3 separate regions of the Homo sapiens genome follow, and all the other regions are linked to region 3. Evidence: fine-mapped expression QTL. A gene starts in region 3. Each other region holds a variant in brackets. All regions are shown on one strand. Distances are between the middles of the regions.

What was found.
Region 1: its variant is fine-mapped to the expression of CEP126 in prefrontal cortex (ROSMAP, PIP 0.95).
Region 2: its variant is fine-mapped to the expression of CEP126 in whole blood (TOPMed, PIP 0.92).

The regions. Positions count from the first base shown.
Region 1 is chr11:102,005,931-102,017,006 of GRCh38, forward strand. No RefSeq gene overlaps it. Among named protein-coding and RNA genes, the nearest start is that of CFAP300, 36 kb to the right of the region's middle. RefSeq lists enhancers at 4,081-4,707, 4,993-6,192. The variant A/G (reference allele first, on the strand shown) is at 5,938.
Region 2 is chr11:101,949,125-101,960,200 of GRCh38, forward strand. It overlaps CEP126 (centrosomal protein 126), which reads left to right. Exons shown (of 11, transcript NM_020802.4): 5 at 9,044-9,242. It also overlaps the pseudogene LOC100418997. Among named protein-coding and RNA genes, the nearest start is that of ANGPTL5, 38 kb to the left of the region's middle. The variant T/C (reference allele first, on the strand shown) is at 4,672.
Region 3 is chr11:101,909,092-101,920,167 of GRCh38, forward strand. It overlaps CEP126 (centrosomal protein 126), which reads left to right and starts at 5,919. Exons shown (of 11, transcript NM_020802.4): 1 at 5,919-6,321. The coding sequence starts at 6,194. ANGPTL5 (angiopoietin like 5) reads right to left here and starts at 7,431. Exons shown (of 9, transcript NM_178127.5): 1 at 6,928-7,431. RefSeq lists an enhancer at 5,838-5,937.

The DNA.
Region 1 (11,076 bases), 97 kb after region 3:
ATCTAATCCTCCTAGGAACCCCATGAAGCATTATTATTATGTCCATATTCAAATAAGAGAATTGAGGTGTTGCAAGGTTAAGTAATGTGCCCAAAGTTGCAAAGGTGGGGAAAGATATATCCAGGAATCAAACCAAAGTCTATCTGTCTTTAGAACTGACTTAACCTCTACCATGTACAACCAGCTTTTTTTTTGGAGACAGAGTCTCGCTCTGTCATCCAGGCTGGAGTGCAGGGGCACCTTCTCGGCTCACTGCAACCTCCACCGCCCAAGTTCAAGTGATTCTCCTGCCTCAGCCTTCCGAGTAGCTGGAATTACAGGCACCCATCACCATGTCTGGCTAATTTTTGTATTTTTAGTAGAGACGGGGTTTCACTACGTTGGCCAGGCTGGTCTCAAACTCCTCACCTCAAGTGATCCACCCACCTCGGCCTCCCAAAGAGCTAGGATTACAGGCATGAGCCACTGCGCCCAGCCAAGGTTTCTTTTCAGAGAAGAATTTTCCAGATGATTATGAGTATAGGCTTATTTACAAGATTTAGAATTAGCTAAAAATATTTTTTCAACTTTTTACAAACATGACTAAGGTGAACATATAACGAAACCTTTTATAAACAAATGCATATACCAATTGGGTGGAGAATTGTTTAATTCGCCACATGAGCACTTAGAACATACTGAAACTTTAAATCTTTTAAGCTTTTATAGCCTACCAGTGGAATGTACTAGGAACTCTGTCTTTTTTTTTTATTTTTTTGAGACAGCATTTCACTCTTGTCTCCCAGGCTGGAGTGCAATGCTGCGATCTTGGCTCACTGCAACCTCCACCTGCCGGTTTCAAGCAATTCTCCTGCCTCAGCCTCCATAGTAGCTAGGATTACAGGCATTCACCACCACACCTGGCTAATTTTATATTTTTAGTAGAGATGGGGTTTCACCATGTTGGCCAGGCCGGTCTCGAACTCCTGTCCTCAGGTGATCTGTCTGCCTTGGCCTCCCTAAGTGCTGGGATTACAGGTGTGAGCCACCGCACCCGGCTGGCACCCTGTCTTCTTAATACCAAAGGTGTCAGCATCATTAGCTGCTAGCCAAATGGCAAACAAAACCACTTTACCTACTTGGCCAAGTAAATATTGCGAAAGTAAGGAAGGGATGGAAAAATAAAGGTTATTTAGTCTTAGCTATTGTATTCCTAAAGTAAATATAATCTTGCAAGTCATCATGGGGAAAATAACTAGGGAAACCTAAATTATCCTCCAAAATTCCCTTTGCCTTTCATATTCAATAAAGCCTAACCCTCCCTCACCATCAATAAGTCAGTCTGTCTTTGGTTTGCTTTGGCGGTTGAATAGCTGCTACGTTAGTGGCATATACAAAATGAGAGGGTAGAAGATCAATAGAGAGATTATGTAAGAAAGAAATTCATTACAGTATCTCTTTATAGCACTTCTATTTGCTTATTGACTAAATATTTATGTTAAGCACTGTCTATGTGCCAGGCACTATACCCCAGCTACAGAAAAAAAAAAAAAAAAAAAATGAATGATATATTCCCTGCCCTCCAGTAGTTCAGTTTCCTGGGGGAATGAGACATAAGTAATCAACTGTAATAGGGCTGAACTTGACCCTAAAGGAGTCAAGTGGAGAAAGCACATATTTTTTTCTGTCTGGGAAAGTCAGGATATTGGGGCTTAAAGTATAAGTTGCGGTTCACCAGGCAGAGAGGGACACAAAAAATATTCCAGGAAGACAGAACAGTATGTTCAAGGTGACTACAAGTAGCTCAGCATGATTGCAGTTCAGGTTGCAAGTTGGGGAGTGGCAGGATATGAGGCTGGAAAGGCAAACATAAGCCCAAATGACATGCATAACTGCCTTGTAATATCACACTTACCTTCTCACTGCATTCTAGAACATGTCTTATTCATCAATGTCTCCCTAACTCAATGTGTGCCATGTAATAGGTCCTCAAATAACAGTACATTAACAGCCCGACAATCTTTTTAAATGTAATTTTATGTCTATCATAATCAGTTGTAAAACTAGGTCAACTTGTATTAAGCTGTTAGTTGGCCTTTTTTAAAACTAATGTAATGACTGCCCTCTAGTGGTTATAAAACAATAAACTTTTCTATCAGTCAATGCCAGTAGCTTTCACTCTTTCCAGTAAGAAAACTTAACTAAGGCATGCCCTTTGATATTTTTATATTCTATTGTATTTTATTTTAAAAAAATGTTGGTTACAAGGAATAATATATCTTCACCCACTAATAGCTTGCCATCCAGTTTGACAACGAGTGTTCTCTGAGAACACTTGGTTTAATATATTAACTATGTCATATAGACTATGGTTTATGATTTAATTTATTCTGAAAGTAGATATGATTTAACGTTTTCTGAAATAGTAGGCTGCTTAAGTTTAACAATACAGATAATATAAATAATACAAATAAAATTCCCCATACACTAATACTAATCATACCTACCAAATATATTATCTTTTCTATTAGTAACTTACATACATTTCACATGTATTACCTCAAAAAAGTCTCTACTACAAATCTGTGTTTACTTTCATTCTTCAGAGTTGCAGACTGAATTTCCTCAGTCATAACAAGACTTACAATAAAGTTATGAAATATAGCTTATTGCTATAATAGGAAAAATAAGAAAACATTCTATAAGGTGATAAACAGGGAAACTGTTAAATTATGGTACATTTATATGATGACTATTACACAGCCATTAAAATTATATTTTCAAAGAATATTTAATGAATTAAAGAAATAACAATGATTCGTTGCTAAGTGGAAAGAGAGGGACCTGGAGCTATACTTAGAGTGTCTCAACCATGGGAGGAAATAAACACATCAAGAAAGAAAAGCCAGGAAATTAATGCAATCAAATATCAGGAGTGGTTTCTCTGCAATCAGATTCCAGGTGATTTTCATTTTTTCTTAATACTTTTTTTTTATATTTTTCACACTATCTACATTGTGCATGTGTAACTTCAGAGAAGTCCAAAAAAATTAAAAGCAAATGAAATTGTCTCCTTTGATAAAAGTGTACACATGAAAGAGAAAGAATGCCCCTCAAAGTCTGCCTTTCCAGATGTCCTGTGTAGCTGAATTACAGACCCTGTAACAGATTTTCTATACTGGAGGATGAGTTTGCTTGTCACAAAAGCATCTTCCAGGGTATTCCTTATCTACAAATATTCGTAAAAGGAGGCCTGGACCTTCAGAATCAGAAGATGAGTAGGTATAATTTTGTGTTATCTCCTGTATATAAGTATCAGTCAAAACAAACTCTCCAAGAACTTTATCTTGGAAAGGTTACATCAGTCTGAGTTTTGTTCCATTGGATGGCCCTTTTTTTTTTTAATTTTTTTAAAGAGATGGGGTCTTGCCATGTTGCCCAGGCTAGTCTCAAACTCCTGGGCTCAAGCAATCTTCCTGCCATCCAGGCCAGGCACAGTGGCACTTTTGACTGCAAAGTATGAAAGCACTAAGAGTATTGCTCTACAGAATGGTAAATATGATATGCAATTTTAAATTAATTTATATTAAAAGGTTGCCAAAGTTATCAATGTTGCTTATATTTCCTAAAATGGATTATGACCTAAACAATATTTATGAACACCTAAAACTCATTAAAAATCTCTTTTCCATTTTTAATATTTTATCCTCATATTTTATTGTATATGCAGTCGTTGTCATAATGCCTTTCTTCCAGAGATTTTTTACAATGCCTTTTTTTAAAGATTAAGTAGAAAACTTTCCAAGAATTTCAAATAATTTTAAAGAAAGAAATTTATACATCAGCCACTCCATCTAACTCTTCATATTAAAGATGAAATCCAAGTACTTTTTAAATGACATTAGTTAAAGCTTCCAATGTCCACGGAAATAAAACTAGTATTTTGCCTTTTTGGTTTCTCCAGCCCAGCAAAGAAAGAATGAAAAAAATATTTGCAGAAAGTGAGAACTTTGTAAGTTACTGCATTGATCAGAAATCAATTCAAAGCTATGTAATACGTATTCACTCAATACAACTTTACTGAGTACCTCTTAAATCATCTCTATGCTTGGGACCAGGGACTCCAATAGAGATCAAATACAATCCCACTAATCAAAACATTTAGCCTATGAGATCTTAAAGACCGGCAAACAGGCAATTACAGCAAAGTGTGAGTGAACACAGATTATAATGAGATTGCCTAGAAGGGCCATCTAATCCAGGACTTGGGCTGTGAAGGCAGGCTTTCTGGAAAATGTGACTACCAAAGTGAGGGCTGAAGGATGGGTTAGACAAGCAAGGATGGAAGAGGATGTAATTTCAGGCATTAGAAACAGCATGTGTCAAACTCAGCCTGCTTTGCCCATACTTCATAAATCTCCAAATCAAACAGGGCTTTCAGGCAAGAGAGCAATTGGAAGCATTATTATACCTCTGCTCTTTCCTGAAGCCCTACTTAAATCACAAGGATTAAAAAGGACAGATAGCAGCCAGGCACGGTGGGTCATGCCTGTAATCTCAGCACTTTGGGAGGCTGAGGCAGACGGATCACCTGAAGTCAGGAGTTTGAGACCAGCCTGGCCAACCTAGTGAAACCCCGTCTCTACTGAAAATACAAAAAAATTATCCAGGCGTGGTGTCAGGCACCTGTAATCCCAGCTACTCGGGAGGCTGAGGCAGGAGATTCGGTTGGACCCGGAAGGCAGAGGTTGCAGTGAGCCGAGATCGCGCCACTGCACGACAGCCTGGGCGACAGAGTGAGACTCTGTCTCAAAAAAACAGAGAAAGAGATACCCTAGATGTCTCAATTGTTGTAAGTAATAATAAAATAAAAGGAGGGAGTACAAGACAAAGAGAAAACAAGGGAAGACAGCGCCAAAACTTGGAAGGTTAGAAAGCAGGTGATGAAGTGGTAACTGATTTAGATAATCAAAGAAAGCTAAAACCTATGCTGGCAGTAGGGGAAGCCTAAAGCAAGCCAGTCTTTCCTGCAAAACCAGAAAGGCCCAGGTTTGAAAGTCATCCGGTAGTTCTGCAAACTGGGGGTAAAGGTAAGACTGAAACAGTAATGATTAGTTGGAAGTCTGTTAGACAAACAGTTAAACCCCAGATCCAAATGTCATGCAAGACAGCTGGACCACTCTCCTTCTTTTGCCAAAGCAGGAACATTTAACTTTAAAACTATGAATAAACGAGAATTTCTTTAACCCATTAGAAGGCATTTAGTGGTTGCTGAGGGCTTGCTGCTGAGATAGTCCCGTCAGGACCTGAGGAGTCTTTCCCCAGCTGACAGGAATGTCGGCGGCTGACAGCTCTCAGCTGAGTCACTCTCCAGGCATTTCCCGCAGGCCAAGAGACTCCTCACACGGGGCCACACCCAGTCCCTGAGGGCCGCCCTTATCCAATGCCTGGTTGATGTGGGGCATGAAGTCCTGGCCCCTTTGCCTCAAGGTAGGTCCGTTTTGAAAGGCACGACTGCACACCAGCAAGAAACGACCAAAAAAAAAAATTTGTAACTTTTTAAAAGATACCATTTACAAAAATAACCAAATTTAAAATGCCAACTCTGAATCTTTAAAAAGATATGCAAGCCTTTTCTGGAAAAAAGATTAAAATATTGAAAGACATTTTAAAAGATTTAAATAAATGGATGTATATACCATATCCTTGGATTTGAAAACTCAATATCATGTCAGTTCCTCCCATTGATATTAAACATTCAATGCAATTCCAACTAAAACACTCAAGGCCTGTTTGTGGAATTTGACAAGATGATCTAAAAATTTATGTGAAAGAGGAAAGAACAAGAATAGCCCAGATACACCTGTGTCCGAAGACTAACGTGGAGGTACTTGCCCTATCAAATAACAAGACTTTTTGTTTTTCTCTCCTTTTTTTGACACAGAATCTTGCTCTGTC[A/G]CCCACGCTGGAGTGCAGTGGCACTATCTCAGCTCACTGCAACCTCCACCTCCCGGGTTCGAGTGATTTTCCTGCCTCAGCCACCCAAGTAGCTGGGATTATAGGCATGCACCACCACGCCAGGCTAATTTTTGTATTTTTAGTGGAAACAGCATTTTGCCATGTTGGCCAGGCTGGTCTCAAACTTCTGGCCTCAAGTGATCCATCAACCTCAGCCTCCCAAAGTGTTGGGATTACAGGCGTGAGCCATGGCACCCAGCAAAAGCTCTTATAATTAAGATAATGTGGTACTGGCACAAGATACATATAAAAATCAATAAAGTACATATTAAAAATCAAAATACATATAAAAATAAATAAAAACTCTTGCAAATAAACCTGATTTACAGCAAAGCAGGCGTTGTATCAAGCTACAATAGCTATGGTAGTTATGAACACGCACCGCTCAGATTTCCTTTCAAGAGATAACCTGCGCAAAAGAGACTGTTGGCTGACAGCCCCTACCTGCTGTACCTCCTGCATCCACCATGGTGTTCACATCAATGCCTTTCTCCCCGCAGACTGTTCCCAGTGACTGAACATTGTGGAAGACTGTGGAAAATTGTGGGTGTCCCAGAAACAGACAATTCTTAACCAGTGAGGGACTTCTCTGGTGGATAGTCTTTACATATGGGTGCCTCAATAGGCCTGGGCAAGACTTCCTTTTTCAGAGCTACTTCTTCCTTCCCATGCTCTTTTCACATGTGTCAGACACACATCATAACATCATAACCTTTATCCTTCACAGGTGTTTCTTCCCAATAAATCTCATACACCTCTAATTCCATCTTGAGATCTGCTTTTCAGAGGAACTTAACTGACATAGTTGGTACCAGGAACAGTCCAAGAAAGCAGGCTAAAAGGTGGAGATTGGGGATGGAATCACTGAATGGCAAGGAAAACCCCATGCTGAGTGGAGAGTGGGTCACAGATTGTCCCTGGCTCAAGGTAGTGGCTCGACTGCCACTATTTCACAGGTGATGACCTGGGGAAACATTCCCTGAGAAAAACAGGCTTGCCAATTCAAGAATCCAGGCATTTAAAAGATGCAGTGGGACTAACACCTGCAAAGACAGTAGCTAGTTATTACTAAGTTGAATTGAAAACCTTCAGAGTGATGAGAAACTGAGAGCAGTTAACAACTAAAGGTTAAGTATGAGAGCCAGGATGCACTTGCGGTGGTATTGCTTACAAAGAGATCCTTATCACCCTGCAGTGGAAGAGAGCTCAGCTGCGGGGCAATCATAGGACTTAGAATAAGGAGCTGCAGAGGCATTTATCAGGCAAGGCAGATCTGTCACAAAAAGACCAGAGCCCTGAAACATCTGGGTGGGTAGCCCCAAGAATTCCTGGTCACTGGATTCCCAAATCGGTGCCTATCTCTCCTACCATTAGGAGACTGCAGGAACCAACAAGATCTCAGTGATGCTGCTGCCTCTTCCTGCAGATCCTTCTTGCAGATCCTTCAGACCTAGAACTTCCCCAGCTGTATTGGGCTGGGATTTAACACTAGTTATCTGCTTGTCAGCAGACGGAGGGTAACTGTGAGGGGTTTCTGGCTGCCTTGTGGTGGAAAGGCCTCAGTAGGGTCTTCTCAGGTGGAGTAAATGCTAGCTCTTAACAAGGAGTAGTGAGAGAGGGGCACTGATATCACGAAGAACTTCAGTGGTGGCTCTGCTCTGTAGGCCAGGACTGAAGGTATGAGAGGAGATCAAGCCTCCTCTATTACAGAGCTGGGCTCCTTAATTGTAGCGAGCATGATGAGCCCCCAGAGTAAGAGAGACCAGGTAACTGCCAGAAGCCAGGGGCCACAGTTACTCTAAAAACCAGCAAGGTTAAAGAAGCAGCAGAGGGGGCTTGGTTGTCAGGCAGTTGTAGAAATGATGAATATAATTTGGAGTTTCTAGGGTCCAAACAAGTTGGCACCCTACAAGGGTACTACTTAACATCTACAATCAAAACAAGTAAAGAATGGAGGAGTAGGTAGCTTAGGACAGTGGTCCCAATAAAAATTATAATATCTTGCTCAGTTTCCAGACCTGAGCCTTTTTATTTAAGACAGAGTCTTGCTCTGTCGCCCAGGCTGGAGTGCAGTGGCACGATCTCGGCTCACCACAACCTCCACCTCCTGGGTTCAAGTGATTCTCCTGCCTCAGCCTCCTAAGTACCTGGGATTACGGGCACATGCCACCATGCCCGGCTACTTTTTTATATTTTTGATAGACACAAGGTTTCACCATGTTGGCCAGGCTGGTATCAAACTCCTGACCTCAAGTGATTCGCCCACCTCGGCCTCCCAAAGTGCTGGGATTACAGGCATGAGCCACCGCACCCGGCCTGAGCCAATTTTTTTTTTTTTTTTTTGAGACGGAGTCTCACTCTGTCGCCCAGGCTGGAGTGCAGTGGGCGCCATCTCAGCTCACTGCAAGCTCCGCCTCCCGGGTTCACGCCATTCTCTCGCCTCAGCGCCCCCGGAGTAGCTGGGACTACAGGCGCCCGCCACAGCGCCCGGCTAATTTTTTGTATTTTTAGTAGAGACGGGGTTTCACCGTGTTAGCCAGGATGGTCTCGATCTCCTGACCTCGTGATCCACCCGCCTCGGCCTCCTAAAGTGCTGGGATTACAGGCGTGAGCCACTGCGCCCGGCCCCTATTTTTAAACTGAAACCCATTAAATGATAAGATGGCCGGGTCTCCAGGAAGAAGGACCCTGCAATTCCCCCAAGAAATATATACTGCAAAGATTCCCTCAGTCGTTGTCTTAAGGGACCTATGGTCATTTCTGTGGGAATACACTGAGGAAAGGGGAATAACCAAATATTTGAGGACTACTGAAGCGGGATCTTGGGCCATGATGTTCTTAAGCTACTAGACGATACGATCTACTAAAACAAGGGAGTAAACCAAGAAAACAAAGATAAGAAATCTGAGAGGCAAGAGAGCTGCAGTGGCCATGAGAATGCACTTTGCAGCCCTCCAGCTACGGAGCATAACTGATCAAAGACCTTAGCTGAGGTGCTCTGAAACCCATCCCAGCCCAGAGGATAGGTTCTCAAAGGATGCAGAGCAACAAGGAAAAGGCAAAACACAAACAGAAATCCCCAGGGTGACGGTAAAGGAAAAATTCAGCTGTGCGGCAAGCCTACAAAGCAACCAGTCAAGACAAGTACAGAAGGAATGGCCACAAGAAGATAAAATTGATAGGAAATCTACTAAGTTTGAGTTACTAAGAGGATGTGTGCAATCTGGAAGAGAAAGAATTAGTGATAAATTACGTAGAAAACTAAACAGAAAAATCATAATTTGTATGACAACCAAAACAAAAATGTGAACAAGGAATAATAAATATTCATAGTATACTAGATGACAACAGCAAAAATTATATTTAGTCATAATAATGCAAATGTTCAATATTGATCTAACAAAAATTAATAAGAATTTTAGTAGGCTGGGAGAATGGGAAGTGTGAGGGAGACAGGTAGAGAATATACTAAGAGGTTAACAGGTAATATATGAAACAAATACCAAGAATGACAGGATAAGCATGTTATTTAGAAATATGGAAGTAAATACTATAAGAAAAAGCTAAAAGAATATTATCTAGGGAGAAGAAATGGAGAGGGATACTGCTAATTATTCCATAATAATAAGACTTGTATTTTATGTTTAAGCTATCTGTAACTTTGATAAACTTTAAATTCAAAATAATTATTGAGCAATACATTTTTGGTTTTTTTGTTTTGTTTTTTTAAATAGAGATGGGGGTCTTGCTATGTTGCTTAGGCTGGTCTTGAACTTCTGTCCTCAAGGAATCCTCCCATCTCAGCCTCCCATAGTGCTAGATTACAAGAATGAGCTACCACACTGGGCCAAAAAACAATTAAAATGCTTTTTTTAAAGCAATGAAATTGCAATAATTTGACAATAATATGTGAATATACAGAGTTTTAAGAAATTAATAAAAGTCAAACACCACAATTAAACAAATGATTCATAAAATAACTAAAAATGTGAATAACAATGTATTGTTGACATTTTATCTCGGATTTTAAAAAATGAAAGTTAAAAAAAAGGAGACCATTTCTAGATACACACATACTCAAAAGAATTGAAAACATATATCTACACATAAACTTTTACATAAATATTCATAGCAGCATTATTTATAATAACTAAAAAGAAGAACTAACCCAAATGTGCATCAACTGATGAATGGATAAATAAAATGTGGTATATCCACACAGTGGAATCTTATTCAGCAATGAAGAATAAAGTACTGATATATGCTACAGTATAGATGCATCTTGAAAACATTAACATCATGCTAAGTGAAAGATGCTAGTCACATATTGTATGATTCCATTTATATAAAATGTCCAAAACAGGCAAATCTACAGAAGCAGAAAATAGATTAGTGGTTGCCAGCGGCTAGGAAGAGGAAACAGGGAATAACTGCTAATGGGTATAGAGTCTACGTCAGGTTATGAAGTATTCTAAAATTAGTGGTGGTGGTTGCACAACTCTACAAATGCGTTAAGAGCCGCTGAGTTTTATATACTTTATAAGGGTAAATATTATGGTATGTGAATTATATCTCACTACAGCTGTTATAAAAAAAATACCAAAAAAATTAAAAATATAAAAACAAAGAAATGAGAAAGGCAGAAGAAAATAGTAAGATTAAAAAAGAAAGAAACAAAAGAAAAATAAAAAAACAATTCAAGCAAATGCATGTCATGGTTAATTTAGTCAAAAAAGTATAGAGATTTTTGTTCATGGGAGGGTCACACACTGAAATTCATGTCTCAGATTTGAACACAGTAAGTGTAAGAGTCATATTCCTTTTGTTGTGAAATTTCTGTATACAAAATATTCTATTTGGCAGAATAATTGCCACCAAAAAAAAGTACAAACAGCTCAAGATAGTGGATATATATACATATATTTAAAGGGCTAGGGTTTAGAATAAAAACATGTTACAAATCTATTTCATCAACATGGAGAAGTAGAACTGTTTTCTCCTTGGCTTGAGAAAAAACAAAGAATAAATGGGTTTTCTTTTGTCTTTTTTAAGGAAAAAAGCTATTAAAGCCACTGGCTT
Region 2 (11,076 bases), 40 kb after region 3:
CAAAAGCCAAGGGCAATCAAAAGCATGATATACTCTAGGAGTAAGAGTATGTGTACATCATAGAATGCAAAATACAGATGGCTTTGCCAGATACAAGATTGGAGAGATAAGTGCATCTGTATGCCAAGAAATATAAACTTTATCTTGAGAGTTTAAGAGGAGTCAATGAATAATTTTAGGCAAATTAGTGATAAGATGAAATTGTCTTTTTAAACATATTATTCCAATCCATTGTGAACAATTGTGGATAATGGATTGAAACCTGGGGATATTTCAATAAATGTAGAAATTATATAGCCTAGAGCTCAAGAGAAAGACTTAGGCTAAAGGCATTTGAAGCCAAGGTAATGGATATGGTCAACTGTGGAGAGTATGTGTGTGATGAGCAGTGAAGAACAGCAACATTTAAGGAAGTGGAAAAAGAAGAGAAGCTTGCAAACACAATGGCTAGAATGGCTTATATAGGACTAGGAGAGGTCAGTATCATGAAAACTAGGGAAGGATAAATTTTCATGGGAAAAAAAATAGTTTACAGAGATCAAATGACTTCTAAAGAATCAGACACATAATGTCTGTCAGTCAGGATCCTGGCAGGGAACAGGAGGCACACTTAAAAGAGGTGACTGAGAGGTTAAGTAAGGGACTATAAAACCAACAAAGGATGGTAAAGCACCCCCAGAACTGACACAAAGTCAGTATTACCAACACAGACCTGAACTGAAAAGAGCTATACTGTAGAAGAAGGACGCTGGACAGGTCCTGTGGTCCTAGGGAGAGGAATGTAAGCCACTGCTAAAGCAAGCCCAGCAGGGAGGAAGTCAGAGGAATAATTATCAAAAACCTCTTTCTTCTGTCACCCTCCTTTCTCCTTCTGGTACCTTCCACTGGCCAAACTCAGCCATAAATCAAAGAGCAAGGGATCATTCAGTCTCTTGGAGCAGAGTCAAGTAGAGAAATGTGGTAATGAATCTGGAAGGGCAAAGAGAGAATATCCAACATAGAAACAATGGGTCCACTGTATTTCACAACAAAAAAAGTTACTGGCAACTTTTGTCAGACCAATTTTAGTGGAGTGGTGGGGGCAGAAAATAAATTGCAATGAGTTGAAGAGAAATGGAGAGCAAAAAGGATAACAAGTTTAGTTTGACTGTGAAAGTTAGAGAGTGATAGGACAATAGCCAGAAGAGATGTATGGCCAATATATGGCTTTTCCCTTAAAAAAGATCTTATGATGTTTAAATATGAATATTAAAGTGATGAGCAACAGAATCGCAGTCTAGAAAGGTAGAGTAGGATACAAAAGTACTTATTCTGTGTTAGACACTGATTAGCATGGGTTACACATGTGAATGAGATATGGTCCTCTGCCTAGCAAGGGTTTGCAATTACATTATAATACTGTTTGTTGGTCTTTACAACATAATACACATGTAATACTGTATAATGGGGGTTGTTACAGAAATACTAGCAAAGTAATAAAGAAGTACAGCATTGAAGGTAGAAGGTAGTCTTAAAGAATGAGTTAAGATTTATCAGAGAAGCATGTGTTGGGTTTTAGGCATGTGCAGTGCTACAGTGTTGTGAAAGGCATAGACCCCTGAGGAAATAGAACTTATTCAGAGTGTCGGGACTACAGGATGTGTTGCTGATGGGACAGGGGATGATCTAGAAATGTAGATTGTGATCAGATGTAAAATGTTTGTATGTCTAGCAAGTGAGTGTGAACTTTATCCTGTAACCAGTGCGGAGCCAATGGAGGTTTTTCAGCAGGGAGTGATAGCATCCTCTTTCTTATTTTAGAAAGATAAATGGTGCAAATGTTGGAGAATAGAGAGGATAGAGAGAAATTGGAGGCAAGGAGACCAGAGAGGAAATTATTGGAATAACCCAAGGGATAGATCCTTACTGCCTAAACCAGAACAGTACTATTTTGTATAGTGAAGAAAGGATGGCTCTGATAATAAAAGGTTTTTAGTAGTGAGAGGATGAGAGAGAAGAAAGAATGAAGATAATGTGCTTTCACAGTGCAGAGAAGTAGCATAAAGAAATAAGAGTTTAAGGATGTTGATCAATTACAAGTATAAGAATTGAAGTATAGGCTGGGCATAGTGGCCCACACCTGTAATTTCAGTGCTTTGGGAGGCTGAGGAAGGAGAATCAATTAAGGCCAGGAGTTCAAGACCAACCTGGACAATAGAGCAAGACCCCATCTCTACACACACACAAAAAATGTAAAAATTAGCTGGGCATGCTGGCACACACCTGTAGCTCTAGCTACTCGAGGAGATGAGGTAGAAGGATCACTTGAGCCCAGGAGTTGGAGCCACAGTGAGCTATGATCACACCACTGCACTCCAGCCTAGGTAACAAGAGTGAAATCCTGTCTCAAAAGAAAAAGGAGAAGGAGAAGGAAAAAGAAAAGAACAAGAAGATGAGGAAGAGGAGGAGAAAGAAGAGCAACAAGAATTGGAGAATAGACAGAATAGAAGCAGAAAGAAAAGATATTTTATTAAAAGAATAGATGAGTTTGGTATAGGACAAAGGAAATGAAAAAAAGCAAAAAAATAAAAAGCGACTGATATTTTGAGTCTTGCTGATTAAGGGAATGTGATTAACTTTTTAAAATTCCCTTTGAGCCTTCTGAATTGAGGGGATAAATATCCATGTAGAAATGTGTAAAAATAATTTAACCAAAGATGAGGTGAGAGGCCAAGGCTCTAGAAATAGATTTGAAAGTTATGATTGTATATATTGTTGCTTAATTTTCATGTGTACTTTTGTCCCCACAACCAGATTGTAATATTCTAAAGGACAGTGTCTCAGTCTTACATATGCAGGTATTCCCTATAGTGCTTAATTCAGTACTCATGTTGGAGGTATTCAATAAATACCTTGAATGGAAAAATATCACTGACATGAGTGAACACTTCTCAAAGTGTATAAAAGTGGCCCGAAGTTAGATAGATGAGGAGGGTATTTATCTGAGACAAACACTGGGAGGAAATTTCAACCAGAAGGAATATTAGCATGTGAGAAGGCATAGAATCATAAAAGGCATGTTGTGTTAAGGGAGCTACAAGTAGCACAATTTGGCTAATGTGTACAGTGAGAAGAGAGTTGTGGGCAGATAGGTTGGAAAAGAAGCCGTGAGTTAGATCATGAAGAGCCTCGGTAAGGAGTTTGTTTTAAAAACAATTACTGAAAGATTCGAAGCAAACACAATATTTATAGGTTGGAAATATTGCCAGAATGGAAAAGAAAAGGAGAACACTGAAAGCAGTAAAATCAGGTAAAATGGCACTTTAGTTGATGAAAACAATGACTTCTTGAAAGCTATTTAGAAGGTACAATCAATATGCTTTGGTAACTGTTTAAGACCTGGAGTGATTGGGAAGAATCAAAGATGACTCCAGAGATTAGATTTGGTCAGTGAAAAAGTGGTAAAACCATTTATCAAAATGAGGACTACGAGGTTAAGAGGGTAGATCTCATGTTAAGTGTTCTTACCTTAGTAAAAAACAAAAATGATGAATATGAGGGAAGAATAGATAGGTTTAGGGGAGGAAGTAATTGGAAGGAGAATGACATGTTTGAGTTTGAGACACTTATGAGATATTCAAGAGCCAATTTCTTATAGTAAGAAATCTGGGCCATGAATGTAGACATGACAGTCATCAATGAATGAATAAAGTTAAAGTCATGGCAGTATCTGCCAGTGGTATTCTTAGATTCAGCTAAACAATCAAACTCCCTTAACTGTACCAGGCTGTTTGGCTTCAATTAGAGACCAGAAAACAGTGCATGCCAACTAGGTAACATTCTTCAATAGGAGGAATCCTTATAGAAGGCCACAAGACAGTTGAGGGGCTAGTTTTTGCTATGTTTCTACCCTCTACAAGTGACAGCTCAGCTTTAAGGCTTATAATGCTTACATTATCACAATGGGTAGGCATCTACCTATTCTGGATAAGACGCCCCATGTTCTAAACAGGAACAAATGTTTTTGTAATGGCTCCATATGAATTTCTCCCATGGAAGAGATATGTCCAGTAATAAGAATTATCATACTCGAGGAAACTCAAAACTATAGCTTTCTAGCAGATACCTGTGGTTTCTTTGCAGTCCTCTTAGTCCAGATGTGGTTTACCAATGAAGGGCCATTTTTACCATAATCAATGTGCCTTGTAACACAGCTTAAATCCTACTAATTATCCAGAGAAATAGACTTAGAAAGTTAACTCAAAGTTGAATTGGTCCATAGAGAAGGAGAAGATTTTGTTAACCCTTTACTCACACACTAATATAGATAAGGTCACATAGACAGTATAAGTAAGATTACAAAGAAAGTATGGATATAGATAAGAAAAAAAGAAAGCCACATAACTCAAAAATTTTAGCATATAAAGGACAGGCAAAGAAAGAGGAGCTCAAGAAAGAGCCTGAGAAGGAACAACCAGAGAAGTAAGAAAATAAATGGGAAATGTGATGATGCGGAAACCAAGGGAATTAAAATCAAGAAAGATAGTGGTCAAGAAATACCTATTTTTGCAATTACTAGGTAATTAGTTAACCACAAGCAAAGTAGTACATTGAAGTGATAGAGGTGGAAGCCAGATAACAGTTGGGTTAAGAGACAAGTGGAAGTTGTGGTAGTAATATAATTTACTACCA[T/C]ATTATATGTGTCAATATAATTTTAGAGTACTCTATAGGAAAGCTTGTCTGAAAAGAGATGACAAACAATTAGAGGGAGTCCCGGGATTTATTTAGACTAATTTTAAAAATTCTAAACCAGTTAATGTAGAAGCAATGTACATTTTCTATACAGGGCTTCTTCACTTTCAGGTTTTTTTTTTCTATCAGTTGTTATACTTTATGTTAATTGAATTATTTTCCTTTTTTGTTTGTTTGTTTGTTTGTTTGTTTTGAGACAGTCTCACTCTGTCTCCAGGCTGGAGTGCAGTGGTGCAATCTCGGCTCACTGCAACCTCCACCTCCCGGGTTCAAGCAATTCTCCTGCCTCAGCCTCCCAAGTAGCTGGGATTACAGGAACGTACCACCACACCCAGCTAATTTTTGTATTTTTAGTAGAGACTGGGTTTCACCATTTTGGCCAGGAGGGTCTCGATTTCTTGACCTCGTGATCCACCCGCCTCGGCCTCCCAAAGTGCTGGGAATACAGGCATGAGCCACCATGCCCAGACAGATATTTTCAATTTTTAAAAACTCTTGTAGAATGAAGAAAAGCATAGGCGTTTTTCTTGTTCAACAGTGTGCAGTTGCTTGAAGTCTTAGAAGAGTTAAACTGTCAGAACAACTTTGCTTTCCCTGCAGCAAACATGTATATATGATTACAGCAAGTCTATGCTAGGATCATTAAATAACACACATCATCTTTGTTTTATAGAAATGATCTTCATTGTGCATTAGAATACCTAGTTAGTTTTCATGTTATTTTAACATACTATTTTGACTTTGACTTCATGATATCTATATCTATCTGTGTGTGTATGTTTATATATACATATATATATCACATAAATTCTATGTATTTGGAAAACAACAAGTGTATACAATGTATAGTGAGAACACTATGATTTACTTATTAAAAAGTTAGACTTCTCTCCACAGATAACCAATAATCTTAAGTAATGTATATGAAAGTGCTTTGTAAAATTTGAAATTCTATATAAATATGAGATATTGGAATATTAAGAATCAGGTGTTAGGTTAATGGACATATTTTTATTTATTGAAAATGTAATTAAGCTGAAACCATTGATAAACTACTATCACATTAAAAATACATTTTCAGTGGAATGTAAACCTAAATGTGTTAAGAAATAAAGTAATGCCAAGAAATAAGGGGCTTACAAAGAAGCAGAGGTATATCAGTAAGATTATTCTAATGTGGAAAATGTTAGTGGTAGATAAAAATAAGATGTTGGCAATCTGATCATGTAAAAGAGAAAAAAAATATATGATAAAGTGCAGGGCATTTAGTGCTTAAGCCCTAAGATAAATCAGAGAATATATTCTCATGAACATAGAAGCTGCTTCAGCAAATAGTGAGATATAAGAATATTAATAAGGGAGTAAAGTTAAAAATATAAGAAGTAATTAGTCTTCTGTCACCATCAAATCCTTATCATAAAGCTAATATGCTTGACCATTCTGGAAGGTGTAAAGTAAAAGGGGATATATTGTCTCCCATATTAAATGGTTAAACTTTAATAAAATGATACTGCTAGATATCTATCTCCAATATCCATGTATCTGTAGTGTGGCAGTTGATCCTGAACTACGTGCTACACTGAGAAATCTGGCCAGAGCTGAGCAGTTATCTATTGACCTCTATTTGCCCTTTGAACTCATGCTTTAAACCAGATTGTCCAGCCCATATTCCTGTATCTGTGTGAGTAAAAGGCTTCTGAGAAGTGAAAATACTCTAAGAGCAAGAAATAAGAAATGGCGAACCTGAATAAGCTATGTACGTTTTTCAGTACATGTGAGAGGACACTGGTTGATCAAAGGATGATCATACATGGACCCTATGGACAAGAAAATAACATGAATCAAAAGCCTAGAGGCAGCCCAATAAACCAAAAAAAATAATCTTAATAAGGCTGTCTCTCTGCCTGCCTGTCCAAATGCTTTTCCACCTGTGCAGATCCATTCCTGCCTGTCCAGCTGTCTCCACACCTGACCCCTACTTACCTGATCAACTGTCTCCTCCACGGGTCCCATTGCGGTCCCACCACTTCCAAATTCTTCCTAGCTACCCAACTGTTTCTCCTGCCCGCCAGCCCCATATACTGCCTATCCATCCATCTGTACCCTCTACTCTTCCAAAGACCTTTGCACCAGTCCCATTACTGCCTTACCCAATTAAATATCATCCTTGTCCTCCAACCCCGGCTACTTCCAGCATTTCTAGCAGTTTCCCTCGTCTACCAGCACCAATTCCTTCTTGCCCACCTGGCCATCCACCCCACGCACCCCAGAGTTCTCCAATCATTCCTGACCCTGAGTCACAGCACAAGTTATTTTACAAAACTTTCAGACCCAAACATTTCCTTCCAGCACAGCATTCTACTGCAGCCACTCTAATGCCTACCCTTGTTCGTCGTTCCCTTCCAGCTCCACTGGTTGTTTCCCCAACCCCTTTGGAACCTCTCCCTGTTTTGAAGCCTTCCTGTTTATCCAGTCACCCCCCTTATCCACCAGTCCCCACTCTTTCTTATGTCACTCCGTTGCCTGCACATCCTGCTAGCTTGGATCCTTTTCAGTCAGTCCAGCAATCTGTTCCACAAGCCACAGCATTGTCAAATCAGCCCGAGGCCTTTGCAGATCATCCACCAGCCTCAGTTCTCTCCCTTGCATCTCCCTGTCATTCTCCATCTTCTTCTTTGCCTTCATCTCCTTCTACTTCCACATCCTTTTCTTCAGCCTGTATACTGTTTTCTTCCTCCTCATCTATTCTTTCCTCTTCTTCGACTTCCTGTTCTACTTCTCCATCCTTACCTCCTTCATCTATCCCTCTTTTTTCCTCTCCTTTGCATTCATCTTCCTCTCCAGGTTTGCCTCCAACTTATTTAGCTTTTCCCTCTCCAGTTTCTCCTGTTTCTTCTTCCTTTATGATTTCCTCTTCCTTTCCCCCTATTCTTCACTCTCCTTCTGTTTCTACCTCCCCATCTCCTTTTATTCCTATCCACCCCTTCAATCCTCCTCATTGGGGGAAGAAAGTAGAGAAGAGAAGAGAAGAAAGTGGAGTAGAGAAGAAAGGAATAGAGAAGAAAGTTGAGACACGACAACTTTAAAGGTAAATAAATTGAGTTTATTAGATATTTTGTAGATATAGCAATATTTTGTTTGGGAAGGGCGACTGAAGGGGAAGGATTATCTAAGAGTAGGAAAGTGTAAAAGGAAGAGACAGAAACATACTCTCAATGTTCAGGAACTTGTATTAAATACCTTCTTGCTCTCCCTGATTAAATGTGTGATCACAAAGGGATAGTTAATCTAGTAATCATTGACCTTGACTACTCCAGTCTGTCCAAATAAAGATATATATATGGATATTGGAGATAGGGAATAGGTATATATCACATGTGGCCACTATCACCTTCCAAAACATTTTTATTCTCATTAAAGTGGGAATAATTTAATTGAATTAGGAATAAATGCTCTTTGGATTCACACTGCCAGCCCCAGTGCAGCAGCATTCAGCTATATGGTAGTCTCATCCCCATCCTATCCTCCCCCAAAACTCTTCTTTAGTTCTTTGCTTTCACTTTGTATATGTGCTGAAATCTAACATGCTATAGATTTGCAGAAGATACAAAATTCTAATAGAAAATGATGTCATGCACTGAAAATGTTTGGATGGCCCTTTAGCATAGTAAAGGTAGACTCTATATTAAGGGTACGCTTCTGTGGCATAAAAACCATGCTTATATTCCTGTTTATATTCCTGAAATAACTGAAAATAAGTGAGTACTTGGCCTCCATTGAGGACGATCCAAGTTCCCAATGCTAGTTAAATAGGGAGGAAATTCCTGCTGACCCTGACAAGCAATTTTTATATTTTCTATCTGCTTGAATCTTCAACCAACACTATTAGGGTTACAGTTTTTTCCTAACCTACTAGCCATGACATCAACTCAGAAAGAAGGGTAATGCAGTATATTATTATCCATATAGGAATGCTCTTAAAGACCTGAGGACTGACTCTACACAGGAATTACTTCTACCCTTATCCCAGATTATAGAGGGATAGGTTATAATAATCAAAGCCATGAATTACTGGGCATTCCTATATGAAGGTGGAGTTCTTTACTGGTACTTTAGTCTCACAACTACTTTTATTCTACTATTGATTGCCTTAAATTCTCATTCTAACATGTCTATATATTTCTCCAATATCCTTATATGTGGTTATCTGGACAAACACACACGTATTACACCTAATGTGTCATGTATATACATATAGAAAGAAGTTAACTTTATTTAAATGTACTAAGCACTTTTTATGTCTGGTTCACAGAGCTATAGATTCTGCCTTGCCTTCCGCATTATCAAAAAATGATCACAAGCATCAGAAACAACTCTTATCCAAAATCAATTGTGAGAAAGAAATGAATGAAAACATGAGGGCAACCTTGGCTACTAGCAAAAATGTGTTCCAGCTTAAACTGGAGGAAACTCAGAAACTCCTCGAAGATCAACATCTAAGCAATTTGCAAGTATGAAACTATAAAAATGTTGTTAATATTTTAATTCCTTGCACTAATTTTGCTCCACTTTTGCAGTGTTCTCCACTAAAGAAATATCTTACTAGCTGAGAGCAGGCCATGAAAGACAGTGTGGATGAATCAGCACAAATTCATCATAGAAACTATAGAAATAATTTTTTAGTTTTTTCCTTACCTTTGAAAGTACAATGTAATGTATTATTGTTAGAGATTGTATTATAAAAAGCAACCAGAAAATTATAATACATGTAGATATTAGTTTCTTAATGGAAATATGGCAGAATTTGCTAGAAATGATGTTTGTAATCTATCCCTAGTAGGGCATATACTTTATTTTTTCCACAACTGAATACAGATATCAGCTGATTTTCCTACATGTCCATCCATGTACTTTATTTTTCATTAATAATTATGCACATTTATGAGATTTTTAATAAACCAATATAAGATTAAATTCATAACATTGGCCTGATTCATCCAACAATTAATCAACAGTGGCAAGGCTAAGAAAGCAAAACAGAAGATTCCTGGCAGCTATCGTGATGTGCCTTCCTACCATAAACAACTATAATTATGAACAAAATAAATAAAACAACTGCTTGTAGACATGGGTCAGAGGCAGTGCAGGATGTGATCTTGAAAAGGGGAAAGAAATGATGTAAGCCTTATAACCTAGGCTTTCTACGTAGTTATGTTGCCTGAATAAGCCTTAAAAAGATCCACTAGTAACCCAAGCTACCTATTAAACAAAAAAACTTAACACTTTTTTCTTTTTTCCTTTTTTTTTCTTTCTTTTTTTTGAGATGGAGTCTCACTCTGTCACCAGGCTGGAGTACAGTGGTGCAATCTCGGCTCACTGCAACCTCCGCCTCCCAGGTTCAAGCAGTTCTCCTGCCTCACCTCCCGAGTAGCTGGGACTACAGGTGCCCGCCACCACGCCCAGCTAATTTTTGTACTTTTAGTAGAGACGAGGTTTTACCATGTTGGCCAGATGGTCTCCATCTCTTGACCCCATGATCCGCCCGCCTCAGCCTCCCAAAATGCTGGGATTACAGGCATGAGCCACCATGCCTGGCCAACACTTTCTTAAAGAAGACTATGAAATCTAAATACTCAATAACATAATGCTCACAATGTCAGCATTCAATCAAAACTTACTAGACATGTGAAGAATCAGGAATATATGACGCATAACCAGGAGAAGAGTAGTCAATATAATCAGACAGAAATAACAGAGATGATGGAATTAACCAACAAGGAATTTTAACGTATTTTTACAAATATTTTCAAGGAATTAAAGTAAAAATGTACATAAGAAAGACAATTGAAAAAAGAAATAAACAGACCTTCTAGTTCTGAAAAACATACTATCAGAAATGAAAAATTGACTGGATGGACTTAACATTGCAGTCATTGCAGAACAAAAGATTAGTGGACTTGAAAACATAGCAATAGAAATTATCCAAGCTGAAGCTTTGGGAGAAAAAGGCTGGAAAAAAATGAACAGTTTGTTAGTGACCTGTGAGACCATATAAAGCCATCAACACATTTAATTAAAAATAAAATTTAAATAAAATTTCACAAAGTAGGAATGGAAATGTTTAAAGAAACCATCGCTGGAAATGTTTCAAATTTGATGAAAATTATAAATCCACAGACTCAAGAAGCCCAACAAACTCCAAGAAGGATAAGTGTATGCACACACACATACCACAGAAAGGCACCTAAAAATCAGATTAAAGCCAGAGGGAAAAAAGATATGTTACATGCAGGGCAATAAAGATAAGACGGACCGCTAAATGTAACTTATAAGCAAAACTTGAAA
Region 3 (11,076 bases):
GAGAACTGCCATAGTTTTTATGGTACTAGTACAATGACTGATACACAAGAGGCACTCAAATATTTTCTTAATGAAGAAACAGCTTAAAATAATTATCTGTTCTCTGACTTTCCTTCCTCACCACCTACTATTTAAACCCAAACAATCATATCTCTTATTTGTGGCAATCACTTTCTCAGAGTTTCTCCAGTGAGACAGTATGAGATGGTTGGGAGTGCCGGCTCCAAGACCAGATTGCCTGATTTAAAGATTAGTTTCAACACTCCCTTACCCTGGAATCTTGGACAAAGTTACTAATATTGCTATAGCTTGATTACCTCCTTTGTATTATGGAAATTGTTGTATGGATTAAAAGATATGTAACATTGCGGACAATATTGATGACTTTTATAATTTATATTAATAGGCAAATACACATATTGTAATCTTAAATTTCTAGTTGAAGTCTTACAAAATTCAAGTGAAAATGGCAGAACTTCAGCAGAAGTTGGCAGAACTTTAAATCAGCCAGATGTTAAAATTCTTTGTTCTTTCACATCTTGCCCAGAGACCAATTCAGGAAATTCTTATTTGAGCAAGAAAATACTTCAGTGGAAGATGGAAAAAAAAAAATAGCCTCAGCCAAGACAAAAGTGAAAGCACAAAAAAATTGTCCATCACAGCTGCCACATGGTTATAATACTTGTTAAATTAAATAAGCAGGAGGCCATTGCCTGAGGCTGTCTCTGTACTTTGAGTTCCTCTGTAGCAAACTGCAGCCTGACTTAGGAGTATATTTTTTGTAACAAATAGTGGAGTTTCAGCCAATCATAGGCAGCCAACTAATCAGAGTATACCCAAATAAGATAAACACCTAGCTGTAGGCAATCACATGATTCCTCTACTTTGTTTCTGTGTCCAACAAAATCTTGCTGCTCATGCTGCTGGGTGGAGCTCTCTGAACTTCTTGTTCTGGGTGCTGCCCAATTCGTAAATCATTCTTTGCTCAAATAAATTCTGTTTATTTTCTGTTCTAAAGATACTAAAAATAATATTCAGGCTGGGCGCGGTGGCTCACGCCTGTAATCCCAGCACTTTGGGAGGCTGAGGCGGGCGGATTACCTGAGGTTGGGAGTTTGAGGCCAGCCTGACCAACAAGGAGAAACCCTGTCTCTACTAAAAATACAAAATTAGCTGGGCGTGGTGGCGCATGCCTGTAATCCCAGCTACTCAGGAGCCTGAGGCAGGAGGATTGCTTGAACCCGGGAGGTAGAGGTTGTGGTGAGCCGAGATCATGCCATTGCACTCCAGCCTGAACAACAAGAGCAAAACTCCGTCTCAAAAAAAAAAAAAAATATATATATATATATATATATTCAAATTAGATAAGTTATGTGAATATGCTTTATAACCATAAAGTGGTTATTATTAGTTTCCTTTGTAAATAAAACATCAACGATTTATGAGACCACATTAATGAAATTGCATGTCTAATAGACATCTCACATTTAACATGTTTGAAGCCTAACTCGTATTCCTTATTCCACCCCTACCTATTCTTTCCCATCTTAGTAATGGCAACACACTTTATCCAATTGTTTGAGCCAAAAATCTGAGTCACATTTGACTTTTTTTCTCTCGCTTACTGCAACCATCCACCAACACATCTTATTGGCTCAAGGTTCAAACTGTAAACATTTCTTGCCACCTCCACTGCTACCATCCTAGTCCAAGTCTGCCATCTCTGGTAACCTTAAAACTGTCCTTATTGTTTCTGGTCTTATCTCCTACAACCTAGTTTTCCCCACAACAACTAGAGGGTCTCTTTAAAGGTTCAATAAAATTGTGTTACTCTTCTAATCAAAACTCTCAAATGGATTTCCCTCCATTGAAAGTTGGATTTTACATTAAGTCCTTGCATACAATACAAGTCGCCACTAAATCTGGGCCATGTACCTCTACAATCTCATATGTTAGCACACTTCCCTTATTATATGGTTTGGACCTGCATCCCTACCCAAATCTTTTTTTTTTTTTTTTTTTTTTTTTTTTTTTTTTTTTTTTTTTTTTTGAGACAGAGCCTTGCTCTGTCACCCAGGCTGGAATGCAATTGCACAATCTCGGCTCACTGCAACCTCTGCCTCCCAGTTTCAATCGATTCTCCTTCCTCCGCCTCCCAAGTAGCAGGGATTACAGGCGCTTGCCACCACGCCCAGTTAATTTTTGTGTTTTTAGTAGAGATGGGGTTTCACCATGTTGGCCAGGCTGGTCTCAAACTCCTGACTTCAGGTGATCCACCTGTCTTGGCCTCCCAAAGTGCTGGGATTACAGGCGTGAGCCACCATGCCAGGCCTCCCCGCCCAAATCTTACGTCAAACTGTAATCCCCAATGTTGGAGGTAGGGCCTGATGGAAGGTGATTGGATCATGGGGGCAGATATCCCCACTGATGCTGTTCTCACAATAGTAAGTGAGTTCTCATGAGATCCGGTCATTTTAAAAGTGTGTGGCACCTCCCCTCTCTCTTTCAGTCCTGCTCCTGCCATGTAAGATGCCTGCTCCCACTTTTCCTTCTACCATGAGTAAAAAGCTCCCTAAAGCCTCCCCAGAAGCAGATGCTGCCATGCTTTCTGTACAGCCTGCAGAACCATGAGCCAATAAAACCTCTTTTCTTTATAAATTACCGACTCTCAGGTGTTTCTTTATAGCAGTGCGAGAACTGCCTAATACACCCTACCTCACTCTATTCCAGCAACAGTGGTCTTGTGCTGTTCTTTGAGCACAACAGTATGATTCTGTCCTCACAGTCTTCTGTACTCACAGACCCCTGTGCCCTTATTCTTCATCCAGATATTTGAATGGCAACCTCTTTCCTTCATTCAGACCTCTGTCCTAATTTCCCTTCCTTTGGGGCCTTTCCTGAGCACCCTCTCACAGATAGAACTGACATTGGTCTCTATCCCCCTTCACTATCCCACTTTCCATGTAGCACTTTTCACTACCCTAATATGTTCTAGTGGGGAAGAAAAATAAATATAAGCTTCACGAACATAAGGACTTTGAAGTTTTATTCACTGTATCCCTAGCACCTGGAAAGTGCTTGGCACATAGTAGGTGCTCAATATATATTTCCTTAGCAAAAGAAGGAATTGTTTTATGGTTTTAAAGTGTGAAAGAATATAACATTGTATTTAATTCAGATGCCCCTTCTGATAAAAAATAGGGATTTTAGGGTAACATTCTTCTTTACTGCTTGAATCACAACTGCCTTTCCTGTCAAGAGATGAAGTTGATAAAATCCTCAAATTTTTTATTATCCAAATATCTAATCCTAAAGCCTTTTTCCATAAATAACACTGACAAAAAAGTCATGACAAAATCAAGCATCATGATGTTCAGAGCCCCTTGGGCCCTGCCTTTCTATAAGAATCTAGGATTCTACAACTTAAATAGAATGTGGAAAACCCACTTAATATTTTGAAGAAATAAAGAAAGAATTTAAAGGTCGAAAAAACCTATGATTAAAAAAACTGGCAACATTGTTTGAAATTTCTTTTCTTCTTGGTTGTTACCGTAAAACAATATTTGAATGAAGAATAATTATATAAGTCTAAACTGAAATAAAATCCTAAGCCCCCACTGACTGAATAGACCCCCTCTTGGCCAAGGGGACCCTGGGAAAACCTTAAAACTGAGTTCCCAGCCATAATGGGATGGAAGGTCAGCTATGCCTCATTATATCCTCTTCCTGTTGTAGTTTGGACACAATTGACCAGGATTAACGTTAAAGTAGAGATCATTAGACTGACGGAACAGACACTTGGTGGCAGTAAGATATCAAATTACAAATAGGACCTAAGGCCATGCCAGGCAAGGGTTAAGTCATGCACTCCTACACTTAAAGAATAAACTATGTTTAACTTCCACAAGTTTTCTGTTTTTCTCTAGCAGCTAAACAAACACTGGCCTTGAGATAAGCAATAGTAAAACAATCGTAGCTCACCACCAGACACTGACTAACTGACCCTCTGTTCCATAAGCCATAACTACAGCTTTGATTGGACAACAGACTGATTTCAATAACTTTCTCCTGATGAGAACATCACCAACCATGAGGTGGTTCTGGCCAGTTTAAGAGGACTGCTCACTTGAGTGCCTTTGTGTCCTAAAAAAAATTTAGACATAATAGGGCCTAATTGTAATGCAATTAAATGTTAAGTCTCCAGCCCAAAATGAACATGGGTCATATGTTACTGTTTGTTCAATATACATGCATCAGAACTACCTTCATAAATATTCATAGCTCCTCCTATATCCTATAAATTATGTATGTTTAGCCAACTTTTCAGCATAAATCTCCTACCTCAACATCCCTCCTTCAAAGTACCTGCCTCTTTAGGCTTCAGTTGGAGGCACACTCCCAGCTTGTGGGATGGCCCTCCTTTCAGGCTGTAACCCTTTCCTCTCCTTTCTAGATTCATAAATTACGTGTTTTTTTAAGTTAACGTAAGAAAGGATTTATAGGCAATTGAGAAACCAAATTATGCTTCTTAGTGCTAATATACCAAGCCACAAAGCAGTGAGATGCCTAGGACTTACGAGATCGCAAACTAATAATATAGCAAAAGCTGGACTTCTGGAAAGCTAACCATGCCTAAATATTCCAAATAGCAACTCTAATATTCTCATATTCATCTGTACTTTGCACTGCCCTACTTTACTCAGATCACCCATGGGGAGACAAACGTGTGATGACAGCAGTGGGAATAGAATCAAGGCCATTGCCTGTGGCTAGGCCAATTAAAAACTTGCCAAGATAGCCAAGTGTCCAGTTGTATACATTTAGCTTTTCATGTCAGAATTGTATATTTTATCCTGTTGGTATGCTTCTGAAGGAGAGTTCATGTGTTTTGTGTCTTAAATCGAAACTGGATTTGTTGTGGCACTTTAAAATCTGTCGCCAGTGTACATTCCAATTTGAGTCATTGCAACCAAGTTTGCAAAGATTGTTTTAAACAGTTTCAACTGGAAAAGTTTATTATTTGAAATCTTAAAATGAACAAATTAATTCACAAAGGCAGAGACATTTGAATGGTGGGTGAATAATCTTTATTTGGTCTGTACTTTCTGCTTCCAATCTGGGAATTTTTCCAAGAAAACACTGACTGAAATACAGTCAGAATTTATATATGCATTTACATTAGGCTCCAACAATAAGATTCAGCCTTTTTCAAAACTGTCACTTGCATAGCCAATAAACTAGTGTCTCAAAAATCCATTTAATTTTCCATACTTCCCAAAACCATTTCAATGCGATGATCTCTTTTGGCATATCTTCCCAAGAGATTGCTAGTTTTGCTGTGATGGTCCATTTCCAGAATCTGGCAGCAATGCGAGAACCATTAGGAGGCTTTGAAATGTAGACCTTCTAAGTAGGGCAAAGGCAAGGAAGACGACTGCAGAGGGAATGCCAGAAGCATTACCGAGTGGATGAGAGAATGCAGGGAAGGAAAATTTCCACTTCACAAAGACATTTTAAAGAGACGGTGTTTGGGGATGATGATGCCACAGAAAGACTCACAACTCAAAATCTCACAACAGGATTCAGTAGTTTAACAAATTCAACTCCAAATTGTCCCCCAGACAATCACTGCAGACTCCTCCCGGTGGCAATTGCCTGTATCTGAGGATTTTACATCTGTCTTTCGTCACTGTCGGTACTGCCACAAAAACACTCTCATAAAAAGGGAGGCAGAACTGCATCAGGCTCTAAAACAACACTCAGCTCACCCCTCGCGCAACAACCCGGGTCCCTAGGGATGCTTGGGTTGCCACCCGCCGCTCGAAGCTGGAGGGGCCGCCGGAGCCTGCGATTGGCTGCTTCGGGCACATCGTCCCGCCCCGACCTGTAGCTCCTCCCAGGTTTCCGTTGTCAAGGACGCGCCGTCGGTTGTTGTCAAGATGGCGGCTGCAGGGTTGCTGCCGCCCCATCTGCTATTGCCCGGCGAGGTCGCCGCTGCCTCAGCTGCCATCGCCGCTACAGGCACCAGTGCCGCTGCGCGGGAGCTAGGGCTGTCGAGGCCAACCCTTCCGCGCCCGTGACGCGGGGCCTGAGAGACGGAGTGTAGGGAGGGGCCGAGCAGGAGGAGGAGGAAGCCGGAGCTGCCATGAGGGAGGTTCTGGGGGCGAGCAGACAGGCGGCGCTGAAGTGAAGGATGCTGGCGGGGAGGCCCGGAACCCGGAGCGCGGTCGGGGAACTGGGCACTGAATCATCGGACAACCTCGACAGAGCCCCCCTCGGCCCTCGGGAGAGCGGCGGGCATCACCGACCTGGCTCTTACCTGTATCCTTCCCAGCCTGTGGCTGCCAGGGTAGCGATGTTGAAAACGGGGCCCATCTTTTTCCAATTAGATTCCCATTACCTTTGACGCAGGGTGATCAAAACTAGCAAGTCATCTTAGTGCAGATATTTCCTTTAGCAACTGTCGTGTCTCACCTTAGACCTGAAATTATACCATTTTATCTAATTCTGTGGCTGCTTCCCCCCATCACCCTGTTATCCTACTCCCATTCTTCAACTTTGTAAAATTTTTGTGAATTTTAAAACACATCAACTGTGTATTCTGTGGGGATATTTTTATGCCATTATGTTCTTTACTTACATATTAACTACTTCCTGATTTATCGTACTACTTGGAGAGAGAAATTACACAAATAAGTAAAATGTTTTGCTATCCTAAAGAGTCCGTTTTAACAGTTATCCTAACACAGCCCTAAATGCATTTACCAGAGCTGCTAAAGGCTACACAGTTTGGTAAGTTGTTTTGTTTTCCATCTCTGCCCAGTCTGTTGTCAGAGCGACAGAAAAGAGGAAATGAGAAACAGGGGACCTGGACGCTTTACAATCTGGATTAACTCTGACTTTTCTCGAAGAGTTGGTTAAGCCTACCTTTGATGTTGCTGTTGGTTGCATTGTAGAAAATGGAAAGAGGAGAAGTATTTTGTTATCAAAATCTGTAAATCAGGTTTATTCCTTTAGAGACTGTTGTGATGATTAGGATTTAACCTTTGTATTCCCAAAGGACTTGGTTGGCAATGATGGTGTTGTGTAATCATCTTCAGTCTTGTCAGAGATGAGTGTCTTCTCTTTCCAAGTTAACTCTGTTTTCTTATCCCCTTTGTCTCCAATTTCTAGGATGTTCTTTGTACTCTGTTACAATTTTAGCAGCAAGTCAACAATTTGTATTGAGTGCCTGCTCTTTGGCTGACTCTGTTCTAGGTTCTAGGGATACAAATCTAGTGAGGAAGACAAATGTGTATAGAGCTTCACTAAAAGTAAAATATCTCTTCTCCGATCATGCTTTCTGCAATCTTCCATCCCTTCAGTCTTTTCTTTCTTTGGGCAGGTTCTCAAAATGGTAGCTTGCAATAGCTGCTTCTAGTTCCTCTCATCTATTCATTATTAACCCCATTCAGTTTGGCTTTTGCCCTTGCTGCTCCCCAAAATTGCCCTCTTAAAGGTTACTCTGAAATGAACACAATCATTTTCTGTATGGATTTAATTCTGGCCTCTTGACATTATATTTTCTTGGACACAACTGCTATTACACGACCCTGATTTATCTCTAAATCAGAAAATAGGGAAGTATTGTAAATGGCTCATTGAGAGTGTATTTTCTGTTATTTTCATTAATAAAATGGTTGTAGGCCTCATTTTTTAAATTTTATGTGGTATAAATTTTTGATACAAATGCCAAAGAAAATATTCATAAATAGAATCCAGCAATACTTTGAATGAACACAACCAAATAGACTCTATTCCAGAATTAGAATGACATTTCCTATAAAGAAATACAACACTAAAAAAGATCCTTAAAGGCTAAATATATAGTTAAAATTAGGCAAGTTATAAATGAACATTTTAATAGATGACCAATAGACTTTGATAAAATCCAACAATGTGTGTGTGTGTGTGTGTGTGTGTGTGTGTGTGTGTGTGTGTGTGTGCTGGTTTATATATATTTTTGCTAGTTTGCATATGTGTGTATATATATGTTTAGATAATATATATTTAAATTGGAACAGAGGAATTATTTTTGAACATAATAAAGATTATAACACTAAATCAAGAACATTATGTTTGCTAGCTGGAAAAACACTAAAGTACCTTTTATATAAGTTTAATTGGAATGTTCTTTGTGTCTATAATGTTTCCCATTGGATACCTAGCACAGAGTAGGTGCTCAAATTTACATGACTAAATGAAAAAAAGGAAAGAAAGCAAATGAAAGGACCACAGCCTTAAAATAAGCAAGTATGTGGTAACATTTACATTTCAATTTCAAATATGAACATGATACTCAGAGGCCATCTGGCTTTCTGTTGAAGACATTTTCTCACTGGAGTCAGAATTTTCTGACTCTAAAGGTTATAAAACAACAAAACCTTATGAAGTTTATTTAATTAAAATTAGCTAAAGTTCTGTCATTTCAATCTCTTTTTCTCTTTTGAGAGTTCAAATAGAAATGGAATTTAAAAAAAAAAAAAAAAGGAAGGTCTCTCATGTCCCCTTATACCTGCCTTTTTTTCCTCATAAATATCTCTACCCTTCAACCCTCCCATTTTATCCTAGCACCCACCTTGCCTCTCCTTTCCTCTCCAGTTTATACCCTATTCTTAACTATTTGAACTTTCTCTCACCAACATCTTTGGCTATTTGTACCCCAATCATTCTGCCTCAGCCACTCAATAACTACTATAGTCCTGCTCCTTTACTCCTTCATGCGAATAATAAAAATGCTGTCAAAGAAAAATCACAAAACAATACAGATTGTACCACTAAAGATTGATGGTTTCCAGCTTCACCTAAACAGGAACAGGGTTCTTTCTTTTTCCTATGAATGCCTCTGCCAGGTCTCTGTCACCTTCCATCACACTCGATAGACTGTCTTACCACTTGATAAGACTTGGATGCCCTGACAGGTCTGTTCCAACAAACAGCACAAACACACACACTCCCACCCACCTGTCTTTTTTTCCCCCCAGGCTCACTGATGGGATCTTACTTTTACTATAGAAAGTGAAGTGAACCCATTCAGCTGGGCCCAGTGGCTCACATCTGTAATCCTAGCACTTTGGGAGGCCGAGGTAGGCAGATTGCTTGAGTCCAGGAGTTCGAAACCAGCCTGGGCAACGTGGTGAAACCATATCTCTACAAAAAATACAAAAATTAGCTGTGTGTTGTGGTGCATGCTTGTAGTACCATCTACTTAAGAGGCTGAGGCAGGAAGATTGCTTGAGACTGCGAGGTGGAGGTTGCAGTGAGCCGAGATTATGCCACTGCACTCCAGCCTAGGCAACAGAGTGAGACCCTGTCTATAAATAAATAAATAAATTGTATTTTGCTAATACATACATAATAAAACATAGTTTTGTACCTTGTGTTTCTAAAAGGTACTGCCCCATGCTCATGAGATTTTGAAACTTAGGTACATAATACATTTCTAATGGCATATACTTTTGTATAACCCCCTTAGGAGCCAAGTTTTCTATAATGCACTAAAAGATATAAAAATGCATATGCCTTTTGTCCTCATATCTACCCCAGAGAATTTTCTCCAAGGGAATAATTCAGGAGGTTTTTATTAAATCATTACTATATTCTAAGAACCATGCCAGGCGTGAGAGTTACAGAAATGTAGAGAAGACACTTATCATGTACTCATGAAGGTGTCATCAAGTCATCTAGTGGAGGTTAGAAAAGGCTTCAAGGTAGAACGAACTGCTTGAGATGGCCCTGAAAGGATGAGTAGAGTTAGCCAAGCATGTGCCAAGAGATAATGGTATGATACATCACGGGTTGTTCTGTTTATAATTATCTTAGTGCGTCTGGACATAGGATTCATACAGGGAAATGTTAAGAAATAAAGTTGAAAAAACAAACTATATTATAGAATGGTTTATATATAGGTCCAAGAACTTTGGAATTTTTCATGAAGGTGATAGGGAGCTTTTGGAGAACAACAAAGAGAAACACAATCAGATTTGCATTTAGCTGACTTTGTGTAGGTTCAAATAGAGGTTTAGAGTAAGAAGAATTAGAGGAGCACTGTAGTCGTCCAAGCAAGGGATTTAGAGTACCTGAGTTAAGGGAGAGGAAGAAGGTACAGTAGAGGAAAAATCGAATCAACATAGCTTTAATAGATTTGGGGAAAAAATGGGTTATATAATACATAGTTATTTGTGATGGCAACATTTTAAACAACCTAACTGGATAAAAGACTAAGTTGGGAGAGGAGAAGTGAGGATAGAGTGGGGTAGAATAAGCTATGCTTTAAAATCACATGTTACAATACATATTATTCTTGGTTTTGTTTTTTTAATGTTAAGTATATAAAAATTCCCTTCTTTTGGACAGGTATTTAGCAGTGTTTTTTTTATGGAACTCCTACCTTTACCATACAGCTTGTATAAAAAAACAAAATTTAACCAGCCATCTAATTTTTTTAAACTTGAATACCATATTTGAAATGATACAAAAGCAGCAGGATTCTTTATATTAATAATTAATAATTCAGCAGGAAACATACTATACTATTATACTTATATATAAAGAAAGTAGAAAATCATTTGGTTAAATTGAAGACTATATAGTTGTCAGAACATTACAAACATTACATTTGTGATTTTCTTTATGCTGTCGTGATGAGACTTCAAACATGTCAAACAGAGAACAGAACTGTCTCCTCCTTGCTTCTCACTTAAGCCAAAGCATCTTCCTCCCCTCAACCTCATGTTGGCCCTGTGCACCCTGAAAGGAAGTTGCACTTTTCTTTACTGCCGAGTTGTCACTTTTAATACCTAGACATCTTGTTGAAGTCTGGCTCTTGTTAAAATATTCTATCAGAGAAAAACAGTTTTTCTGTGCTAGCAAAGAACCAAATTTTCTTCCCTTTTGGTTTGATTTTTATAAATCCTTTAAAAGAAATCTTTAAGTAAAAATATGTTTGTGAGTGTGTTTGGGTCTTTGTCTTGAAGTAGTGTAAAATTTTATTTAAAATGAAGGTAAAATGAATTATGGCCTATGGTATAAAGATGG